Linked DNA regions of Homo sapiens. The protein of the gene in region 2 purifies or fractionates together with the protein of the main gene of each other region. This does not show direct contact. Each region holds a gene or a part of one and is shown on either strand. Other genes may lie near its edges.

Region 1 (3,650 bases), on a different chromosome or scaffold from region 2:
TTTTTTCTTTTTTTGAGGCAGAGTTTCGCTGTGTCGCCCAGGCTGGAATGAAGTGGCGCGATTTCGGCTCACTGCCGAATCAAGCGATTCTCCTGTCTCAGCCTCCAGAGTAGCTGGGATTATAGGCACCAGACACCATGCCCTGCTAATTTTTTTATTTTTGTATTTTTAATAGGGATGGGGTTTCTCCATGTTGGCCAGGCTGATCTCGAACTCCTGACCTCAGGTGATCCACCCACCTCGGCCTCCCAAAGTGCTAGGATTACAGGCGTAAGCCATCGCGCCCAGCCAAAACTTTCCATTTTTAAAGAGAAGCTGGAAAGCCAGATTAATACATGAAATATTCTAGTTTTTTAAATGTTGTTAAGTTATTTAAATATTTGAGAAAAGAGAAAAAGAGCTCTAAAGCCACTTGTTTCCAAGCTATTCATGGTAGACCACCAATTTCCAAATGCTTGATGAGTAGTGCTCACTGCTAATCACTCCATTATTAAATTTTCACTAGTTTATGGTAAAATCTTTTAAAAGGACAATAAAATGAATTTTTCTATAAAGCTAACTAAATCTACCCAATATAAAGAACTGCTTTCCCCCTGGTGATTATATTCTTACATATTTTGTTAAAATACCCTTCATTTATCTTTGTATTTGTTAAAATATCTTTTATGAAATAATAGTATTGTTTTAAATACATTTAATTGAAAAATTAAGAGTTGGTGACTTAACACTGTCTTGTTGCATTTAGTTTTGTTTTACTTATTTTTGAACTCCAAATGACTGGGCATTGCTGCTAGGACAATGGCAAGTCACTGAAGGTTTTATTTAAGCACTATTGTGTTGACATAACCCTGGACTCCAGCAGTGATGTGGAAGATTTGTTGGTTGAGACTAGAGTCCCAGAAATAATCGAATATGAAAACCCAAGGGAACTTCTGCCTTACTCCTTCATTTAATGACTGAGGACACTGAGATACAGTAGGGAAGTGAATTGTCCACAGTCACCGGGGGAGGTAGTAACAGAGCCACAATTACATCCTGTTTTTCTGACATGAGACAAGTGTTTCAACTGCCCCAGTCCTTTCTGCATCAGCCACACAGTATGCTGAGACACTGAAGTGCCCAACTGTTGGAAAGCTTAGTAAAGGGAAGACTTCAGGATAACAGAATAGGTGATTTGTGAAATTGTGCATTTCTAGTGAAACTTAAAGCCCATGTATCATGTTCATTTCATTTTTAAGGTACAGAAGTTTGCCTTTAATTGCTGCTGAGTTAATTTTCTGTTAGGATGTTTCTTTCATGAGTAGGCCTTTAGGTTTAAGAGTATAACATAGTTCACTTATTGTGATATTTGGCTATGTTAGAACCTCAGTTTATTAGCAAATACACCCACTTGACTTTCCCCTTGATACGTCCCAGTTTCCACAGGTGCTTATGTACCTACCCATACCAAAAAATTTTTTTCTTGTCATTTACTCTGTGTATGTGTGTCTCTGTCCTATTTCCCCACTTGACAGATACATTTTACATGGATAAGATAACATATTTTATTCTCTGGTACCTGTGACTGGCACACAGCAGGGATTTGACTTGATTATTAAAGAATGACAATTGCAATAATGATAACTTTCATACACTAAGCACCATCCATATGCCAGGTATTACTCTAAATGCTTTTTAAAAGACATCATCTGAAGATTAGTCTAAAAATATTCAGTGTTTGCCTCCCATGTGCTGAGTGCTGTGTTGAATGCTGGAGAAATAGCAGTAAATAAAATGGGGTTTACGGCCTGAACTTCAGTGCCTTCCTTCTCAGCACTGCCTCAAACCTCTCCTGATTCATGCTAGCCCTAAATACATGATTGTACATAATTAAGAAAAGAATTACAGTATGTCAGTTGCTGTGAGGGAGAGATACTGAATGTTGGGAGTAAGAAAAGACTTCTTGGATAAAATGAAAATTAAATTATGACATGAAGGGTGAGCTAGGTGTTATTCAGAAGAAAGGCAGGTGGTGTGTTTTATGCAGAGAGAGTATTCAGGGCAGAAGCCCAGATGGAAGGTACCAAACATGGTTTGGTTCAACCAAACTTTGAAGAACAGAAGTCGAGAAAGGCTGGAGCAGAGGAGGGAAAGAGGACAAGATCATGCTACCTGAAGTCTTGCTATTAAACTCCCATGGTGCCTTGTGAAGCTCTGTATAATGCTTTTTATAAACAGCATCTAATCAAGTGTAGTTAACCATATAATTTGTATATTATTTGCCTAAAAAACTGTCTTTTCTGCTCTGTTGAGCTCCTTGAATACAGGGTGCTATGTAGGTCTTATTTCATCACTAGTACTGCCCTAAACTCCTCCCCATATGCTTGTTTTCTATTTTATCTTTAGTAAAGATAAAGATAAAGACATTTTATCTTTAGTAAAGATAAAGATAAAGACATTTTGTCTTTACTAAAGATAAAGATATTTTATCTTTAGTAAAGATAAAGATAAAGGTATTTTGTCTTTAGTAAAGATAAAGATAAAGGTATTTTGTCTTTAGTAAAGATAAAGATAAAGGTATTTTATCTTTAGTAAAGAAAATGAATGCTTTTCCGACAGGCCCACCTACCTGTAAGCACTATACATAGTTTCCTTACTGAGTTGAATTTGTAGTATTTCATTTATTTATTCATCCATTTGATGGACATAAGTGTGTGCCAAGAAAACTTAGGAAAATGTAGGAGGTTCCTCATGGGCTAATTCTTGATCTAGACTTAAAGCTAGGCATAACTGAGACCAAAAAATCTCACCTGCAAAGCAATATATTACAATTTTAAAACATTTAAATTTTAATGTATTGGGTTATGACTTTTTTTTCGTTTTTGTGGTTTAATTATGCCAGTATTTCAAAACCTGCTTTTGTTTTTCCCGACCCAGCCCATCTGCCAAGCAGCCTATCAGAATGACTTTGGACAAGTGTGGCGGTGGGTGAAAGAAGACAGCAGCTATGCCAACGTTCAAGATGGCTTTAATGGAGACACGCCCCTGATCTGTGCTTGCAGGCGAGGGCATGTGAGAATCGTTTCCTTCCTTTTAAGAAGAAATGCTAATGTCAACCTCAAAAACCAGGTGAGGTCATGACATGAATGGAGAGTGTAATTGTTCATGATAATTCTTTTCTCTTTGAATCACTAGAAGTGGTGCATGTCATTTTTTAAATTGCTTGCAGCTCCTAATACGAACAATTATCTTAGCCTACTTTAGAAAGACTGACACATACCAAGGACATTTTATTAGGCTAAACAGCAAAATAAAACATAGTTCAATCAGCAGGCATAATTTGTGATAAATTATGTCTTTTTACCTCTGGTTCACTTATTTGGCTGGATAGAGCTTCTTTCTTTTCCTTCTTCCTCTCTTCATCCTCCTCTTTCTTCCTCTCCCCTCTTTCTCATTACTAACACAGAAGCAATGGCAAAGATTTCTTGGAAAAGAAATGCTGTTTCATTAGTTAGATTTTTACCTGCTATATTAATGTCCTGATCTCCAGAGGATCCTATAGTGTTCTTGTAGAATGAAAGAGTACTATTGAGAAATTTACCAAGGACAAATAAGCTCATGAGCCAGAGGTTACTTGAAGTCACACAAAAAGGTGTAAAGAATATATTTAA
Region 2 (3,650 bases):
AATACTACTGAGTAATAAATAAGAATTACAATATATCTCCAATATTGTGTTCTAGCAAATCAACTAACACTACTGAGCAATAAATAGGAATTACAATATATCTCCAACAACATGGATAAATCTCAAAAGCATCATGCTAAATGAAAGAAAGTAAATCAAAAGACTATGTACTGTATGATGCCATATATATGAAATCCTAGGAAAGAGAAAGGTGTAGTGACAAAACACAAATCAAGGTTGCTAGGCGTCAGAGGTGGGGAGAAGGAATTTACTGCAAATAACTATGAGTTAAATTTTTGGGGTGATGAAAATGTTCTGTATCATGACTGTGATGGTGGTTAAACAACTGTATACAATTGTCAAAAAAGAATTGTGCACTCAATTTGAAATTTTATTGTCTGTAAATTATATCTAAAAAAGATGAATTAGCTGAACGATCTGGTTCTACTGAATTAAAATTCTATGTAGAGTATCAGAGTGTGATTACAAAATGTTTTGAGAGGATACTATAGAATTTCTTGTGTAATTTTGGTAGGGTTTTAGGATGTTCTGAAAGCAAAGGCCAAGGAACAATGACTCATAGATGATAGTCCCACAACAGTCTACACAAAAAAAGGTAAATATAAATTTATATCTCCCTTACTCCCATTAGTACCATGCCTAAAATACTTTGTTTACAGAATTACTGTTTCTGATGAATGAACCATTAAAGAGAAACACCGAGTACAGAGTTTCAGATTGGGAAGATGAAAAAATTTCTAGAGATGAATGCACAACAATATGAATGTACTTAATGCCACAAAACTGTAAACTTAAATGGTTAAAATGGTAAATTTCATATTATGTATATTTTACAACAATAAAAATTTTTTTTAAACATTGGGGGGTAGGGGAGAGGCACTCCAAAAAAATGTACATAAATCTAGAAATGCACAGGAAGTTCATTTTGAAAGAGTTCCTTTGGTTTGATTAATAAAGACTATTCTACTGTTGCTTTCACAAAATCAAGCTTAATAGTGGTTATTAGGTACGATTCTACTAAAGGAAATTGTGCTTACCAACTCTATCCAAGCTTATTTTTAATGTTTAGGGCTCTTACCAGAATATAGTTTTTGCTTGTAACAGTTTGAGTTGTCTAACACAGACAGGAAAAACACTGGGAGCTCCAAAAAGGTTCTACATTTGGATGGCCCAAATACATGTCATTTTGTCATCTAAATTAATCTGCAAACTAAACTGAACACAAATACTCAAAACATGCTAACAGAAGCCCTAAAGTGACTGTGGCCTGGGGTTAAATAAGGTCACACAAGAACTGCTAAGATAAACATCAAATTCATGTCATTTGGTAAACGAGAAAGCCATCTGTGCAATTCACTGTGGGTAAACTGCAGACTGACTGGGGCTAGACATTTGTCAAACATAGTCGTTATTAATAGTCATGCCAATAAGTGTTAAAAACCCAAAAATCCCTAGATTTAAGTCCAGAGATGGCAGAGTTGTAGTAATCTACCTAAAGCTGGCAGGACATTTCTATTAAGAAATAGCATTAATAGAACCTTCTATTACATTAATAGAAAGTAAGTTCAAAGGGCACATGCCAAGAACAGGAAAGAATGTATGCGCTTTAAGCAAGTTCTATGTACTATCTGGAGAACAAGTTCTGAGTTACAGGCTAAGTGGATTTTAGGAGGGCAATTTCAATTTAGGCAGGAAATAAATAATAATGATAGTAGTAGTCGTTATCAGTAGCAGCAGTAAATTCTTACATCATGCTTCCTATTTGCCAGATATTAGTTCTAAGCACTTTCATTATATTAACTTGCTTAATCCTTCTAACAACATTGTGAGGCTGGCAAACCATTGTCTTCATTTTGCAGAGATGAAGAAACAGGCTCAGGAAGACTAGGTAACTTTCCCATTGTAACCCAGATGAGAGGTGGCAGAGCCATCTCAGGGTGTCCTGCTCCAAGTCCAGAGTTCTTGCTCTTAATAATACTATATTGCTTGTCTTTGGAAAACACCACTGCTTTCCTGGGAAGCAAGAAGGTTAAAGGAATTGTTCTACTGTAGACCAGACTGGAGAGTAGTATTAGAAAGAACTAGTGAGAAATGAGGAAAAACTTTCAACATTTATTAAAAGCCTGCCATGTACCAGGCATTTTATATTTTAGGATAGTAGGCAACTGACTACAAAAAAGTAAATGACTTACAGGCCCTGAAATTCACCTTAAACTTGTATTTTTAATTAAGTTTATTATTTCTTTGCATTTAAACACAAAGATATATCACAATGATCAAATGCAAAAAAAAAAAAACATTATTTTACTTCATCTTCACAAGAATTCAATTCAGTTCTTTCAAAAAAATTTGCTAAGCATTTATGTACCAGGCACAAGACATATAAAAAAGGTGAATGTATTAAAAATTAAAGAAATTGGTTCCTGTTCTTTAAAAAAAAATCTATAGTCTACAATAACTCTTTGCAATTATTCTCATTTTACATAGAAAGACACTGCTCAGATGGGTTAAATAACCTGTTTAGGGTCCAACCTGTAAATAGCTGAGACAGGATTTGAACTCAAGCCCTTCTAACTCCAAAACCTATACACTTTTACCCTACAGAAAGCTAAAAGTGTTTCTGAGTGTAGGGACCGGAAAAAAATTTCCAACTGACTTCAAATAACAAATACAAGGCAACTGTATTCTCGTTAATATTTTAGAACTGTGTCATGTTAGTTGAGAACTTGAAAAGAGGAAGTGTAAATTCTAGACTAAATCTTGGGTTACAGACCTCACACAGATTGAATATAGAAGAAGTACACAGCAAGAGTCACTCACATTGTAAAATAGTTGAACATTTTAAAATACATATTACAGTGGACACGTATGGTCCCACTGGAAATATATAAGACAATGTTACTTTCAAGAGTTCCCAGTCTTTGAAGCTGAAATCCTTCTCTCTTAAATCTTATTAAGTAGTTAATTGTAGCAGAAAGTTACTCAGTTAGGTCCCAATAGGCACAGGCCAGAAAGTCCTCTGAAAGCTGCCCTCAGTACCTGCACTGTCACAAACCTACTAAGTGTATTCTATAGTTAGAAAAAATGTATTGATATAACTTTCTGCCATTGATATAACTGTTCTACCTAAAAAGAACAAGATATTAAAGATACCATGCTTTATAAAGAGATGATCCTATTCATTGTGAGAAACTGAACTTATCCAGCTATATGCTATTTTATTTAACTTTGGAACTGCATTCATCAGTACGCATTTATGAGATGGCTAAGGTCTGAGGGTATAGGATGGAACCACTTGGCCATCTCAAAATCATTAGCCTAGATTTGTTAAATTATGCTTTGCCCAAACTGAATTAACCAGGGATAAATGATTTTGAAAGAAATAAGGGTTGACATGTGGGTGACAAAAAAAAATTAATTAAAAAACAGAACGGGTGTAATGGCTCACACCTGTAATCCCAACACTTTGGGAGGCAGAGGTGGGCAGATCACTTGAAGTCAGAAGTTCGAGACCAGCCTGGCCAACATGGTGAAACCCCATCTCTACCAAAAATACAAAAATTAGCCAGGCATGGTGGCACACACCTGTAATCCCAGCTACTCAGGAGGCTGAGGCAGGAGAATCACTT
Region 3 (3,750 bases), on a different chromosome or scaffold from region 2:
AACATGGTGAAAACCTGTCTCTACTAAAAATACAAAAATTAGCTAGGCGTGGTGGTGCATGCCTGTAGCCCCAGCTGCTTGGGAGGCTGAGGCAGGAGAATTACTTGAACCAGGGAGGCAAGGCTGCAGTGAGCTGAGATCAGGCCACTGCACTCCAGCCTAGGCAACAGAGCAAGACGCCGTCTCAAAGAAAAAAAAGATTTACATGGGTCCCGTTCCACCTCCTTTGCATGGGAAGGTTGGGGGAGCAGCACTGTAGGATTTCCTGGGCAACCAATGCCCAGGAGGCCAGCCTAAACCATGTCCCCTGCTTTTTGGGGCACTGGCTAGGTTCTGAATGTTGGTGTCTCCCCTAAATTTATATGTTGGAAACCTCATTCCCAAGATGATGGCATTAGGAGGTGGGACCTTTGGGAGGTGACTAGGTCATGAGTGCAGAGCCCTCAAAATTGGGATTAGTGCCCTCAGAAAAGAGGCCCCAGAGAGCTGCCTTTCCCCTGTGAGGACACGGGAACCAGAACTCTGGCCCTCGCCAAACACCTAATCTATTGACACCTTGATCTTGGACCTCCCAGTCTCCAGAACTGTGAGAAACACGTTCTATTGTTTATAAGCCACTCAGTTTATGGTATTTTGCTATAGCAGTTTGAAGGGACTAAGCCAGGACTCCAGCTTTCCTTTCTGGCCTCTGCTGGGAAACAGCTCCTGCTCTGTGGTCACAGTCTTGTGGGCTCCCCGTTCCCTGAGCTCTGAGTGGGCTCAACAAAGTGAAATGTGGAAGAGGAAAAAGAGATCTGGGGCTTGACCAGACTTGTGTGTCCCAGGACATCTGCAGTGACTGCCTTCAGAAAACCTTCCAGGAAGAACGTCAGTCATGCCTTCCGGGAGCTCAGGTCTGAGGCATCTGGTTGTACCACAGCCCTGATGGCAGGGGACTTCAGACTGCTCATGCCGGCCTGGCACTTCCTGATTCGACTTCAGCAAGGCAGGCAATGTTCTAGAACCTGACCTCCGATTTAAACTGAGTTTCTCCTTCCCTTGAGCAAGGAGGACAGTGAATCAGAAGGACGTAGATCCCCTCACTGTATCACTGTGTGTGTATCTACTCACTGTGCGTGCGTGTTCTCACGGCCCCATTGCATTATTTAAAGGGACACTAGTTTATTCGGATGGAGAGCTCAGTCCACCCCACGTCAAGCTTATGAAGCCCATTTCCTGGCCCCCTTCTAGGAATGTCGGGAGGAGGGTGTCGCGTGGGCTTTGAAGTAGGACAGACCTGGGTTTGGGTTTCTGTTCTGCCACTTGTCCTTGGTGACTGAGCCTCAGTCTACTTGGTTGGGAAATAGGACGGTCGGGAGTGAACCCGCCCAGGGTGGGCTTCCAGTCACCCGCACATATGCGGGGCACTGGCCGCCCATCCCTGCCAGGCCCCGAGGATGCCCGCGCTCGTCCTCGGCGTCGCGGGTTGGGCGCGCTCCCGGGCGCATTCCCGGCCGGGCAGCCCCTCCTCCCTCGTCCTTAGCCCAGGGGCCGGCGCCTCCCCGCCTCGCGCGGACTGTCTCGTGCGGGCAGCTGCGGGCGCACCTGGACCCTCGCAAGGCCCGGGCGGCGCCGATCCCCGCGGGACGCGCTGCGCTCGGGGCCTCCCGCCTCCCCCCCTGCCCCAGCCGCCCCCCGGCCGCGCGGCGCCCCGCACCCTGCAGGGACGGCTGCCGCATCGCTGGGACAAACTCGGCAGCGGAGGCAAAGTTATTTCCCCTCCCAGGCAGCGGGATTCCGACTGGCAAGATGGTGCCCAGCTCTCCGCGCGCGCTCTTCCTTCTGCTCCTGATCCTCGCCTGCCCCGAGCCGCGGGCTTCCCAGGTCAGTGTCCCTCCCGCCTCTCTCCAGGCCAGTGTCCCTCCCGCCTCTCTCCAGGCCAGTGTCCCTCCCGCCTCTCTCCAGGCCAGCGTCCCTCCCGCCTCTCTCCCCTGTCCCTCCCGCCTCTCTCCCCTGTCCCTCCCGCCTCTCTCCAGGTCAGTGTCCCTCCCGCCTCTGTCCCCTGTCCCGCGCGCCTCTCTCCACGCCAGTGTCCCTCCCGCCTCTCTCCAGGCCAGCGTCCCTCCCGCCTCTCTCCAGGCCAGCGTCCCTCCCGCCTCTCTCCAGGTCAGCGTCCCTCCCGCCTCTCTCCAGGCCAGCGTCCCTCCCGCCTCTCTCCAGGTCAGCGTCCCTCCCGCCTCTCTCCAGGCCAGTGTCCCTCCCGCCTCTCTCCAGGCCAGCCAGTGTCCCTCCCGCCTCTCTCCACGCCAGTGTCCCTCCCGCCTCTCTCCAGGCCAGTGTCCCTCCCGCCTCTCTCCAGGCCAGTGTCCTTCACGCCTCTCTCCAGGTCAGTGTCCCTCCCGCCTCTCTCCAGGCCAGCGTCCCTCCCGCCTCTCTCCAGGTCAGCGTCCCTCCCGCCTCTCTCCAGGCCAGCGTCCCTCCCGCCTCTCTCCACGCCAGTGTCCCTCCCGCCTCTCTCCAGGTCAGTGTCCCTCCCGCCTCTCTCCAGGCCAGTGTCCCTCCCGCCTCTCTCCAGGCCAGTGTCCCTCACGCCTCTCTCCAGGTCAGTGTCCCTCCCGCCTCTCTCCAGGCTAGTGTCCCTCCCGCCTCTCTCCAGGCCAGCGTCCCTCCCGCCTCTCTCCAGGTCAGCGTCCCTCCCGCCTCTCTCCAGGCCAGCGTCCCTCCCGCCTCTCTCCACGCCAGTGTCCCTCCCGCCTCTCTCCAGGCTAGTGTCCCTCCCGCCTCTCTCCAGGCCAGCGTCCCTCCCGCCTCTCTCCAGGTCAGCGTCCCTCCCGCCTCTCTCCAGGCCAGCGTCCCTCCCGCCTCTCTCCACGCCAGTGTCCCTCCCGCCTCTCTCCAGGTCAGTGTCCCTCCCGCCTCTCTCCACGCCAGTGTCCCTCCCGCCTCTCTCCAGGCCAGTGTCCCTCCCGCCTCTCTCCAGGCCAGTGTCCCTCCCGCCTCTCTCCACGCCAGTGTCCCTCCCGCCTCTCTCCAGGCCAGTGTCCCTCCCGCCTCTCTCCCCTGTCCCGCGCGCCTCTCTCCATGCCAGTGTCCCTCCCGCCTCTCTCCACGCCAGTGTCCCTCCCGCCTCTCTCCAGGCCAGCGTCCCTCCCGCCTCTCTCCAGGTCAGCGTCCCTCCCGCCTCTCTCCAGGCCAGCGTCCCTCCCGCCTCTCTCCACGCCAGCGTCCCTCCCGCCTCTCTCCACGCCAGCGTCCCTCCCGCCTCTCTCCACGCCAGTGTCCCTCCCGCCTCTCTCCACGCCAGTGTCCCTCCCGCCTCTCTCCAGGCCAGCGTCCCTCCCGCCTCTCTCCAGGCCAGTGTCCCTCCCGCCTCTCTCCCCTGTCCCGCGCGCCTCTCTCCACGCCAGTGTCCCTCCCGCCTCTCTCCAGGTCAGTGTCCCTCCCGCCTCTCTCCAGGTCAGTGTCCCTCCTGCCTCTCTCCAGGCCAGCATCCCTCCTTCCTCTCTCCCCTGTCCCGCGCGCAGGGGAGGCAGCACCAAGGCTGGGGGACCCGGGCTTGCCACTTTCCACTCGGATGCCTGGGTTGAGAGCTCGGAGCGATGCCTGGGCTGGGGTTCAGTTTTCAGAGAGAGGTGCAGGGTCCCCCACCTGTCACCTCAGATGCATCGCTGGCCGGGCCCCTGGGAGGACCCGGGCTGGGCTGCGAAAGCGTCGGTCCATTGTGGGCGAGGACTCCACGTGAGCACCGCCGGGAGGAAGAAGATTTCTCAG

The links.
Region 1: the proteins of EDEM3 (region 2) and ANKRD22 purify together in Homo sapiens (co-immunoprecipitation; one large-scale study listed by IntAct). This does not show direct contact.
Region 3: the proteins of EDEM3 (region 2) and FBLN7 purify together in Homo sapiens (co-immunoprecipitation; one large-scale study listed by IntAct). This does not show direct contact.

What each region holds. Positions count from the first base shown.
Region 1 is NC_000010.11:88,831,293-88,834,942, reverse strand, and holds part of ANKRD22 (ankyrin repeat domain-containing protein 22), read left to right. Parts: intron 1-2,916; coding exon 2,917-3,108; intron 3,109-3,650.
Region 2 is NC_000001.11:184,744,716-184,748,365, forward strand, and holds part of EDEM3 (ER degradation-enhancing alpha-mannosidase-like protein 3 isoform 2 precursor), read right to left. Parts: intron 1-3,650. UniProt on the Homo sapiens protein: Involved in endoplasmic reticulum-associated degradation (ERAD). Accelerates the glycoprotein ERAD by proteasomes, by catalyzing mannose trimming from Man8GlcNAc2 to Man7GlcNAc2 in the N-glycans.
Region 3 is NC_000002.12:112,136,868-112,140,617, forward strand, and holds the start of FBLN7 (fibulin-7 isoform 1 precursor), read left to right. Parts: upstream 1-1,517; 5' UTR 1,518-1,788; coding exon 1,789-1,863; intron 1,864-3,750. UniProt on the Homo sapiens protein: An adhesion molecule that interacts with extracellular matrix molecules in developing teeth and may play important roles in differentiation and maintenance of odontoblasts as well as in dentin formation.